Linked DNA regions of Homo sapiens: region 2 is linked to region 1. The links come from fine-mapping of genetic effects on gene expression. A gene starts in region 1. The other region holds a variant in brackets. All regions are shown on one strand. Distances are between the middles of the regions.

The links. PIP is the estimated chance that this variant, and not a neighbour inherited with it, causes the effect. A credible set is the group of variants that fine-mapping cannot tell apart.
Region 2: its variant is the best candidate, but not a certain one, in a credible set for the expression of TMED1 in whole blood (Lepik 2017, PIP 0.62).

What each region holds. Positions count from the first base shown.
Region 1 is chr19:10,833,653-10,839,023 of GRCh38, reverse strand. TMED1 (transmembrane p24 trafficking protein 1) reads left to right here and starts at 2,812. Exons shown (of 4, transcript NM_006858.4): 1 at 2,812-3,015; 2 at 3,671-3,768; 3 at 3,907-4,090. The coding sequence starts at 2,833. It also overlaps a transcript of C19orf38 not described here. RefSeq lists enhancers at 2,538-2,637, 2,403-3,039, 3,677-4,314.
Region 2 is chr19:10,968,759-10,974,129 of GRCh38, reverse strand. The region is part of intron 1 of SMARCA4 (SWI/SNF related BAF chromatin remodeling complex subunit ATPase 4); the gene reads right to left. Among named protein-coding and RNA genes, the nearest start is that of SMARCA4, 10 kb to the right of the region's middle. RefSeq lists an enhancer at 792-841. The variant G/A (reference allele first, on the strand shown) is at 3,204.

The DNA.
Region 1 (5,371 bases):
AGAATCCCTTGAACCTGGGAGGCGGAGGTTGCGGAGAGCCTAGGTCACGCCACTGCACTCCAGCCTGGGTGACAGGGCAAGACTCTGTCTCAAAAAAAAAAAAGAAAAAAAAAGAAAAAGAAATGGGCGATGTGGCACAGCTCAGGTAGAGACCCCGGCTGCATAATAAAAGATTAGCAGATACCAGAAATTCACACCCTATGCAAATGGCACACCTGTTCTAACCAGTTTTTCATCCCCTATGTAAATCAGGCTAAGTCTCCTCACCAGCTCATCTATAAACCCCCCTGTATTTTGCTATGGACCAGCAACCCATTTTTCTGGGACTCCTCTCTGTAGCAGAGAGCTATACTCTCCGTTGCCTATTAAACGTTCGTTCTCAACCTCATTCTTTTGTGTGTCCTGGTCCTTGTTCTTCGTGGCTGTGAGACAACGACCCCGGGTGTTACTCAAGACAACGAGGCCGTTTCAGAATCACTGCTTAATGGGTACAGGGATCTTTACTGAGCCGATGAAAATGTTTTGGAACTACATAGAAGTCACTGCACAACACTGGAATGTACTAAATGCCACTGAATTGTTAATTTTAAAATGGTTATTTTTATTTTCTTTTTGACACGGAGTCCTGCTCTGTCGCCCAGGCTGGAGTGCAGTGGCATCATCTGGGCTCACTGCAAGCTCCGCTTCCCAGGTTCACACCATTCTCCTGCCTCAGCCTCCAGAGTAGCTGGGACTACAGGCACCCGCCACCACGCCTGGCTAATTTTTTGTATTTTTGGTAGAGACGGGGTTTCACTGTGTTAGCCAGGATAGTCTCGATCTCCTGACCTCATGATCCGCCTGCCTTGGCCTCCAAAAGTGTTGGGATTACAGGTGTAAGCCACCACACCCGGCCTTAAAATTGTTAATTTTATGCAATGTGAATTTTACTGTATTTAAAAAAATCAATTTTAGTAATCCCAACACTTTGGGAGGGTGAGGGAGCAGGCAGATGGCTTGAGCCCAGGAGTTTGAAACCAGCCTGGGCAACACAGGGAAACCTCATGTCTACAAAAAATTAGTTAGGCATGGAGGTGTACACCTGTAGTCCCAGCTACTCAGGAGGCTGAGGTGGGAGAATCACTTGAGCCCAGGAGGTAGAGATTGCAGTGAGCCATGATGGCGTCACTGCACCCCAGCCTGGGCAACAGAGCAAGACCCTGTCCTAAAAAAAATCCGGCCGGGTGCAGTGGCTCACGCCTACAATCCCAGCACTTTGGGAGGCCGAGGTGGATGGAACAGAAGGTCAGGATATCGAGACCATCCTGGCTAACATGGTGAAACCCCCTCTCTACTAAAAATACAAAAAATTAGCCAGGTGTGGTGGCACGTGCCTGTAGTCTCAGCTACTCGGAAGGCTGAGGCAGGAGGATCGCTGGAACCCCAGGAGACGGAGGTTGCAGTGAGTCGAGATCGCGCCACTGCACTCTAGCCTGGGCAACAGAGGGAGACTCTGTCTCAAAAAAAAAAAAAAAAAAAAAGGAAAAAAAAATTAAAAAAAAAAAGAAAAAAAAGAAAAGGAGTCACCCGTTCTCCACTGTTACTTCAAATTGTCCAAGCAGTGAGTGTAAATGATAGAAAAAGTTGGAGTGAAAAGGAATACCAAACTGATATTACAAAGAGCTACTTCCCCAAATTCTCCAAATGCAGGAAAGTGCTGACAACAGCCAGCTGTATTTGAGGGATCTTTGTCATCACCTGCCAACCTTTTCCGGGTTTATCTTTGAAGACTAAACATCTCCCTGTACACAGTTTATGTTTAGACGGGAACCAAATAACAGATTATTATTTACTGAGGGCCTGTGATGTCCCACGCACTGCGGAAGCAAGCACTCAACAAGCATTTCACGTATCCTAAAGACAGCCCAGTAGCGTAGGCCTATTATCCCCATTTTGCAGAAGAGGAAACTGAGGCTCAACAGAGGGAATGCCTCAAGTAATGGGTGGGGCAGGAGCTGAACCAGGCAACGTGGCTCCCAGTCCCACACTGTCCTTATCTCTTCCTACCTGGGCTGTCGTTTTTCTGACCCGAGGCTACTGTAATGGCTCTATTTACCTGCTGGCCCTTGAGTCTGAGACCCTTGGGGTGCATGGTGGGGCCACGCCCCTCCACTGTCTATAAGCCAGGAAAGCTGAGCACTCAATATGAACCAAGCCTCATCTCAATTCTCACAGCCGCACTACAGGGTGGTCGTTCCATCACTCCCGACTTACGAGGAAACTGATACGCTGATGCCTCTAAGGCGCAAAAGGCGTCGAACCTGGACCACGCTCACAGAGCAAGCAAAACACGACGCCACAGGTATCTCCGCCCCGCCCCAGCCCTTTTATAGGCGAGCCCTACGGGTCGCGTACAGGGCCACGCCTAGACGCTATTTTTGGGTCCACTCCACCACGTCGGTCCCGCCAAAGGTTGTCACGCGCGGCGCACTCTGGGAAAACCACGTGGAGGTGACTAAAAAGGACCCTGCCGCCTGTAACTTTAGTTGTCTTAGCTACTGCCTACAAAAGATGCGCCATCATGGCACTTATTTTTGTAATTTTCCTCCACCAGCGGCCGAGAAGAGAGCCGAAGCCTTTGAGAAAAATATTCCCAGACGGTTGAGTGTTTCTGGGCACATCAGGCATTCATTCGGGCCGCCTGCCCTCTAGTGGGGGGGTCCTTCACTCCTGGCACCTCTGGTTACGGACAACATACAGAAGCCACTGCCAATGAGCTCCGCCGAGTAGCACCGGGGCAGGGCTAGCGCTTAAAGGAGCCGCGACCCCTTTGCAGACCAGAGGGTGACCCGGATGATGGCGGCCGGCGCGGCCCTAGCCCTGGCCTTGTGGCTACTAATGCCACCAGTGGAGGTGGGAGGGGCGGGGCCCCCGCCAATCCAGGACGGTGAGTTCACGTTCCTGTTGCCGGCGGGGAGGAAGCAGTGTTTCTACCAGTCCGCGCCGGCCAACGCAAGCCTCGAGACCGAATACCAGGTAGAGGGTCGCGGGCTGGGCGGCCAGCAGAGTCAGGGAGAGGGGGCGTGGCCAAGCGGTCGAGGCGAGGCGCGCTTTAGGAGGAAGGGGGAGGAATCCGTGCTTGGGAGCGCGGGGGCGGAGCTAGAAAGAGATGGACAGATGGGGCGGGGACGGTGTGTGGGAGCGGAAGGGGAGGGAGTAATGAAGCAGGCGGGGCTAGAGTAAGAGATCCAGAGGGGGCGGGGCCATCGATAAGTATAGGGAGCCTCTGAGAGGACAGGACTCTGGCTGGTGGGCGTGGCGATAGTGCTGATAGGTCAACTGCGGGGGCGTTGCCCACACAGGCCTTTCTCGGGGGTTAGACTAAGGAAAAAGGCTGGGCCTATCCTCTTTCGGAGGCGGAGCCAACCAGGGGCGTGGTCAGGTAAACGTCCATTAAGTACTTTTGGTAGGTGCGTGGTCAGCTGAAAGTATGGACCCCAAGCTGTCATATCAATGAGGGTGGAGGCAAGGGGCGCAGCCACTGGGACAGGTTGGGGCGGGTGTGGGTGTGCCGCCGTTCAGGTAAGCCCTTGGTGGTCTGTATTGATCAGTGTTGGTTCAGCCGTAGCCCTCTTCGGCAGGCGCCCTTGGCCTACCGCTAGCCCTCCACCCGCTCTTACCTGCCCCCCAGGTGATCGGAGGTGCTGGACTGGACGTGGACTTCACGCTGGAGAGCCCTCAGGGCGTGCTGTTGGTCAGCGAGTCCCGCAAGGCTGATGGGGTACACACGTGAGTTCAGTCTTGATGCCTGCCTGGGTTCAGTTACAGCCCTGCCCTTCCCAGGCGGCCTCAGGTTACCGCCCTGACTGCCCCGCTGAGTCGGCTGGCTGGCCACCCTGGGTCATGTCTGTGTGTCTGTCTGCCCAGGGTGGAGCCAACGGAGGCCGGGGACTACAAGCTGTGCTTTGACAACTCCTTCAGCACCATCTCCGAGAAGCTGGTGTTCTTTGAACTGATCTTTGACAGCCTCCAGGATGACGAGGAGGTCGAAGGATGGGCAGAGGCTGTGGAGCCCGAGGAGATGCTGGATGTTAAAATGGAGGACATCAAGGTGTGTCCAGGCTGCGCTGGGGCCACTCCTTCCAGATCTCTAGGATTCACCTGGGGTGCCCCCCTTGGGCTGACCCAGCCTCCCCTCCGTAGTTGTGCCCTCCAACTGAATTATAGTAAGAGTAGCAGCTCTTAAAATAAGTAGTTCATTTCAGGCCGGGCACGGTGGCTCACGCCTGTAATCCCAGCACTTTGGGAGGCTGAGGCGGGTGGATCACCTGAGGTCAGGAGTTTTGAGACCAGCCTGGCCAACATGGTGAAACCCCGTCTCTACTAAAAATACAAAAATTAGCCGGGTGTGGTGGCGGGCGTCTGTAATCCCAGCTACTCAGGAGGCTGAGGCCAGAGAATGACTTGAACCCAGGAGGTGGAAGTTGAACCTGGGAGGCAGAGGTTGCAGTGAGCCGAGATCGCACCATTGCACTCCAGCCTGGGCAATAAGAGCAAAACTCCGTCTCAAAAAAAAAAAAAAAAAAAAAAGTAGTTCATTTCTAGGTATAAACCCTGGTGTAAAGGTTTAAGGAACTCATATCATAAATAACTCATACCGTAAATCTCCAAACCACCTTGTGAAGCAGACCCTGTGCTCAAGTCATCCCCATTTTACAGGTGGAGAAAGTGAGATACAAGATGGCTGAGCAACTCACGGCCACACAGACCAACTAGCAGAGTTGGTATTGAACCCATGCTGGTTTCAGCAACTATGCTCTTAACCACAAGCAAATATGTTCTGTACATTTATTAGTATTTTAATTAACTACTTATTTATTTATTTTCTAACAGATCTCTCTTGGTCACCCAGGCTGGATTGCAGTGGCACGATCTCAGCTCACTGCAACCTCTGCCTCCCAGGTTCAGCCAATTCTCCTGCCTCAGCCTCCTGAATAGCTGTGCCACCACGCCTGACTGACTAATTTTTGTATTTTTAGTAGAGACAGGGTTTCACCATGTTGGCCAGGCTGGTCTCGAACTCCTGACCTCAGGGGATCTGTCTGCCTTGGCTTCCCAAAGCTCTGGGATTACAGGTGTGAGCTACGGCGAGGCAAGGTCTTGCTGTGTCACTCAGGCTGGAGTGCAGTGGTGTGATCATAGCCCATTGCAGCCTCAAACTCCTGGGCTCAAGCAATCCTGCCACCTCAGTGGGACTACGGGTGTGCACCACCATGCCTAATTTTTTGTTTTCTGTAGAGACGAGGTTTCACCATGTTGGCTAGGGTGGTCTTGAACTCCTGGGTTTAAGTGATCCTCCTGTGTTTGGATTACAGGTGTAATCTTGCTTCAG
Region 2 (5,371 bases), 140 kb before region 1:
GGTTGTTTTCACCTTGCATGAGAAACTAGCATTATATTTAAGTTTGGTCCCAGGATATCTGCTATTGTGTTTTTTGGGGCTTGGGGAAATTTGTTCACGGACACATTTCAGCAGCAGACCAACGTGGGAGTCAGGTTATGGCAGAGGCTTGGGCGGAACAACAGCAATGGGCAGGATGGCTTCCGCAGAGCCAGCCCCGTTTACTATGCGTGAACTACAAAACAAAATGTTCCCCTCGGTGGTCTATAAGAAAACCTCCAGGCCGGGCGCGGTGGCTCACGCCTGTAATCCCAGCACTTTGGGAGGCCAAGGCGGGTGGATCACGAGGGTCAGGAGATCGAGACCATCCTGGCTAACACGGTGAAACCCCGTCTCTACTAAAAATACAAAAAATTAGCCGGGCGTGGTGGCAGGCGCCTGTAGTCCCAGCTACTCGGGAGGCTGAGGCAGGAGAATGGTGTGAACCCGGGAGGCGGAGCTTGCAGTGAGCCAAGATCATGCCACTGCACTCCAGCCTGGGTGACAGAGCAAGACTCTGTCTCAAAAAAAAAAAAAAAAAAAATTAGCTGGGCGTGGTGGCGGGGGCCTGTAGTCCCAGCTACTCGGGAGGCTAAGGCAGGAGAATGGTGTAAACCTGGTAGGCGGAGCTTGCAGTGAGCCAAGATTGCATCACTGCACTCTAGCCTGGGTGACAGCGAGACTCCGTCTCAAAAAAAAAAAAAGAAAACCGCTTAAGAGCACCTACCCAAGGGACCTAAAAGCATCCAGGACGGTTCTCTGCCTTAGGGGAGTGTCCTCTAACCCCACAGGGACGTGTGGTGTCTACACTGCAAGCCTGCAAATGCTATCCTAGCTATCAATTAGATGGATGTTTTTCAAGCTCTTCTGATCATGTCTCCATGTGACAATGTGACCCAGCAGAAACATAACACGCAGAGTAACCGCATCAAGTGTCACAAATCCATCCTGACCCACGCTCCCTGTGGAACATCAATAACCCCATTCTTTTTTTTTTTTTTTGTAGATGGACTCTGGCTCTGTCACCCAGGCTGGAGTGCAGTGGCACAATCTCAGCTCACCGCAACCTCGGCCTCCCGGGTTCAAGCAATTCTCCTGCCCCGGCCTCCCAAGTAGCTGGAACTACAGGCGCACACCGCCATGCCCAGCTAATTTTCGTATTTTTTGTAGAGATGGGGTTTCACTATGTTGGCCAGGCTAGTCTCAAACTCCTGAGCCGATGATCCGTCCACTTTGGCCTCCCAAAGTGCTGGGATTACAGGCGTGAGCCACTGTGCCCGGCCCCTATTCTTTCTTTTCGGCTGGCCGAGGCCCACTGGATGGATGTCCTGCGCCACCACCGGGTCTGCTGTGTTATCAGCTATATACGCAACACTGAGCGTGAGGAGTGACACTGTGTGGAGACGGCAAGAGGAGTCCCCACAACAGAGGCATGCAAAGGCCAAGAGTGGGCAGGGAGATGCAGAATCCATACCTGCCCAGTGTCACTCGTGACAGGCCTTCCCCACCGCCACAGCAGAGGACTTACTGATGACTACCCCCAAATACGAACAGCGCTGAATGCACCAAGCTGGTTCCAAACACCAGGCATCTGGCAGAGAACAACACAATTCCTACCTGGAGGAGTGGACAGCAGAGTGACAGAAATAGCCAAACATGACACAATGTCACATAGAAAGTGGAAGTGTTATATTAAAAAAAAAAAAAAGTATTCAGGGCCGGACGTGGTGGCTCATGCCTGTAATCCCAACACTTTGGGAGGCCGAGGCAGGTGGATCACCTGAGGTCAGGGGTTCGAGACCAGCCTGACCAACATGGTGAAACCCCATCTCTACTAATAATAAAAAAATTAGGACCAGGCTTGGTGGCTCATGCCTGTAATTCCAACACTTTGGGAGGCCAAGACGAGTGGATAACTTGAGGTCAGGAGTTTGAGACCAGCCTGGCCAACATGGTTAAAACTCATCTCTACTAAAAATACAAAAATTAGCCGGCATGGTGGCAGGCGCCCGTAATCCCAGCTACTCGGTGTGGGGGCTGGGACAGGAGAATCGCTTGAACCCAGGAGGCGGAGGTTGCAGTGAGCTGAGACTGTGCCACTGCACTCAAGCCTGGGTGACAGAGCGAGACTCCGTCTCAAAAAAAAAAAAAAAAAATTAGCCAAGCGTGGTGGTGCACGCCTGTAATCCCAGCTACTCAGGAGGCTGAGGCAGGAAAATTGAAATCGCTTGAACCCGGGAGGCGGAGGTTGGAGTGAGCCAAGATCGCACCATTGCACTCCAGCCTGGGCGACAAGAACAAAACTCCATCTCCCCCCTCCAAAAAAAAAAAAAAAAAGTATTCAGGGTGGGCATGGTGGCTCACGCCTGTAATTCCAGCACTTTGGGAGGTTGAGGCAGGTCGATCACTTGAGGCCAGGAATTTGAGGCCAGCCTGGGCAACACGGTGAAACCTCGTCTCTACGAAAAATACAAAAATTAGCTGGCATGCGGCTGTAGTCCCAGCTACTTGGGAAGCCAAGGTGGGAGGGTCCAGACTGCCATGAGCTATGATTGCACCACTGTACTCCCCGCTGGGTGACAGACCAAGACCTTGTCTCAAAGAGAAAAAAAAAAAAAAAAGACACAATGTCACATAGAGGGTGGAAGTGCTATAAATCTAATCAAGCAGGGTTCGCAGGGTTAACAGATGAGAAGCACTCCTTCTATGGTAGCCTGGGACACCTCAGTGATGAAGATGTCTGAGCAGAGATCTGTAGTGACATGGGCACCATGTGGTTATTTATCTACCACAGAGGAACAGCAAGTGCAAAGGCCCTGGACTGTGCTTGGCATATTCCAAGGCACAGCAAGTCAGCCAGTGTGGCTGGAGCAGGGAAGGTGGGAAAACACACTCTGTTTCTTTTTTTTTTCTTTGAGATGAAGTTTCACTCTTGTTGCCCAGGCTAGAGTGCAATGGTGCGATCTCAGCTCACTGCAACCTCTGCCTCCTGGGTTCAAGTGATTCTCCTGCCTCAGCCTCTCAAGTAGCTGGGATTACAGGCACGCGCCACCACGCCCAGCTAATTTTGTATTTTTAGTAGACTAGGTTTCTCCATGTTGGTCAGGATGGTCTCAAACTCCCGACCTCAGGTGATCCACCCGCCTCAGCCTCCCAAAATGCTGGGATTACAGGCGTGAGCCACC[G/A]TGCCTGGCCCACACTCCGTTTCTCTACACTCTCACACAGCACTTTTGACACCAACTCAGAGAAAACCAGTTTTCTTCTACTATACTCTCATAACCGAGAACAATTCTGTGACCAGATGCGTGGGTCTTTTCCAAGTAATTCTCCAAGTCTCCAAACACCAGCTGGGTGTCCTACAATTTAACTCAATTCAGACTCTATCTCCCACAAGTTAAGGACTTTATCGGCCAGATGCAGTGGGCTCACCTAAGCACAGTGCTTTGGGAGGCCAAAGTGGGAGGACTGCTTGAGGCCAAGAGTTTGAAACCAGCCTAGGAAGTATAGCACCCTGTCTCTACAAAAAATTTAAAAATTAGCTAAGCCTGGCAGTGGTGCACACCTGTAGTCCCAGCTACTCGGGAGCATGACATGAGCCCAGGAGCTGGACACTGCAGTGAGCTATGACTGTATCACTGCACTCCAGCCTGGGTGAGAGTGACACTCTGTCTCTAAAAGAAAAAGAGCTGTCCCATAAGACTGCTCCCACTACAAATGCCATTTGCACATCCCAGGGTCCAGTACTTCTGCCCAGCCACCTATAAATTGGGAATTCCCACAACCCCCTCCTCGATTTGATTGATTTGCTAAAGCAGCGCCCAGAACTAAGGCAGGCACTTCACTTCCCATTAATGGTTTATTATAACGGATACGACTCGGGGTCAACCAGATGGAAGCAATACAGACAGCTTCAATGGCCCCTCCGTACATGCCACCCTCTAAGCACTTGGTCTTTCTGGTAACCAGCCCCATCCTGGGCTATCTAGGAGCCCCATCCTAAATCACCTCATAAGCATAAACTCAGCTGTGATCAAAAGGGGCTCATTATGAATTTTAAAAGACACACCTATCACTCCTATGACATGTGGCGCAAAGACCAAATATATTCCATATCATACCTCAGAGGGCAAGTGGGTGCGGCCACAGGTGGGGCATAGGGGAGAAGTCACAGGCCTTGAGGGCCACAGTAAAGGGGTTCCAGGAGCATCCAGTGCAGTGGGGAGCTGCTAGAATGTTCCAGGCACGGGAGTGGCACGGTCTGATAATGACTTTAATTTCTCTGGACATGCTGATGGAATGGATGTGCAAGTGAGGGCAAGAGATGAGGCAAGGGTGAACACCAGGGTCTCGGCTGGGACGTGCTGTTAGAAACATAAAAAGGGGGCCAGGTGCAGTGGCTCATGCCTGTAATCCCAGCACTTCGGGAGGCTGAGGCAGGTGGATCACCTGAGGTCAGGAGTTTGAGACCAGCCTGACCAACACGGAGAAACCCCGTCTCTACTAAAAATACAAAATTAGCCAGGTGTGGTGGTGCATGCCTGTAATCCCAGCTACTCGGGAGGCTGAGGCAGGAGAATCGCTTGAACCCAGGAGGCGGAGGTTTCAGTGAGCCGAGACCCCGCCATTGCACTCCAGCCTGGGCAACAAGAGACAAACTCTGTCTCAAAAAAAGAAAAAAAAAAGAAAGAAATATAAAAAGGCGCCAGGCGTGGTGGCTCACGCCCATAATCCCAGCACTTTGGGAGGCTGAAGTAGGCAGATCCTTTGAGCCAAGGGGTTCAAGACCAGCCTGGGAGATAACATCAAGACCTCCACTTCTAAGAAAGTAAAACCTAAAACATAAATTTTTAAATAAACATAACAAGGCCCCCCTTCCTCGAGGCTGACCAAGCCCTAGAGCAAGGCTTGGCAAAGACAGGCAGGGCCGGGGTTCAGCCCCTGGTTCTTGAGGTAGAGGGTGGAGGCCAGGGAGATTCTGAGAGGAAAACGGAATTCTGAGTTCAAAGAGGTTAAGCCATGCAGAACAGAATCCCGCCTCAAGTCTCTTTGACTCCAGGGCCTGAGTAACTGATTCAGGCCGAGGATCAAAAGGAATAGGATGAGAACCTTGAAGGTCGAGGAAGGGCAGAGTCAAGAGGAAGGGCAAGTAAAGAGCCACTCCCACAGGCACCCAGGAGATGCCTCCAGGAGGCAGGCAAGGCCTTCAGGTGCCCAGCCAGTCCAGGCTGTGCCAGAATCACATTTGATCATCACAGGGGCAGTTTCAGCTCCCTGGGCACAATGAGACATCCACTATGCCCCTTTACTGGGACTTTCGGAGCAAGATGGGTCGCACACAGCAGACCCTCCCCCT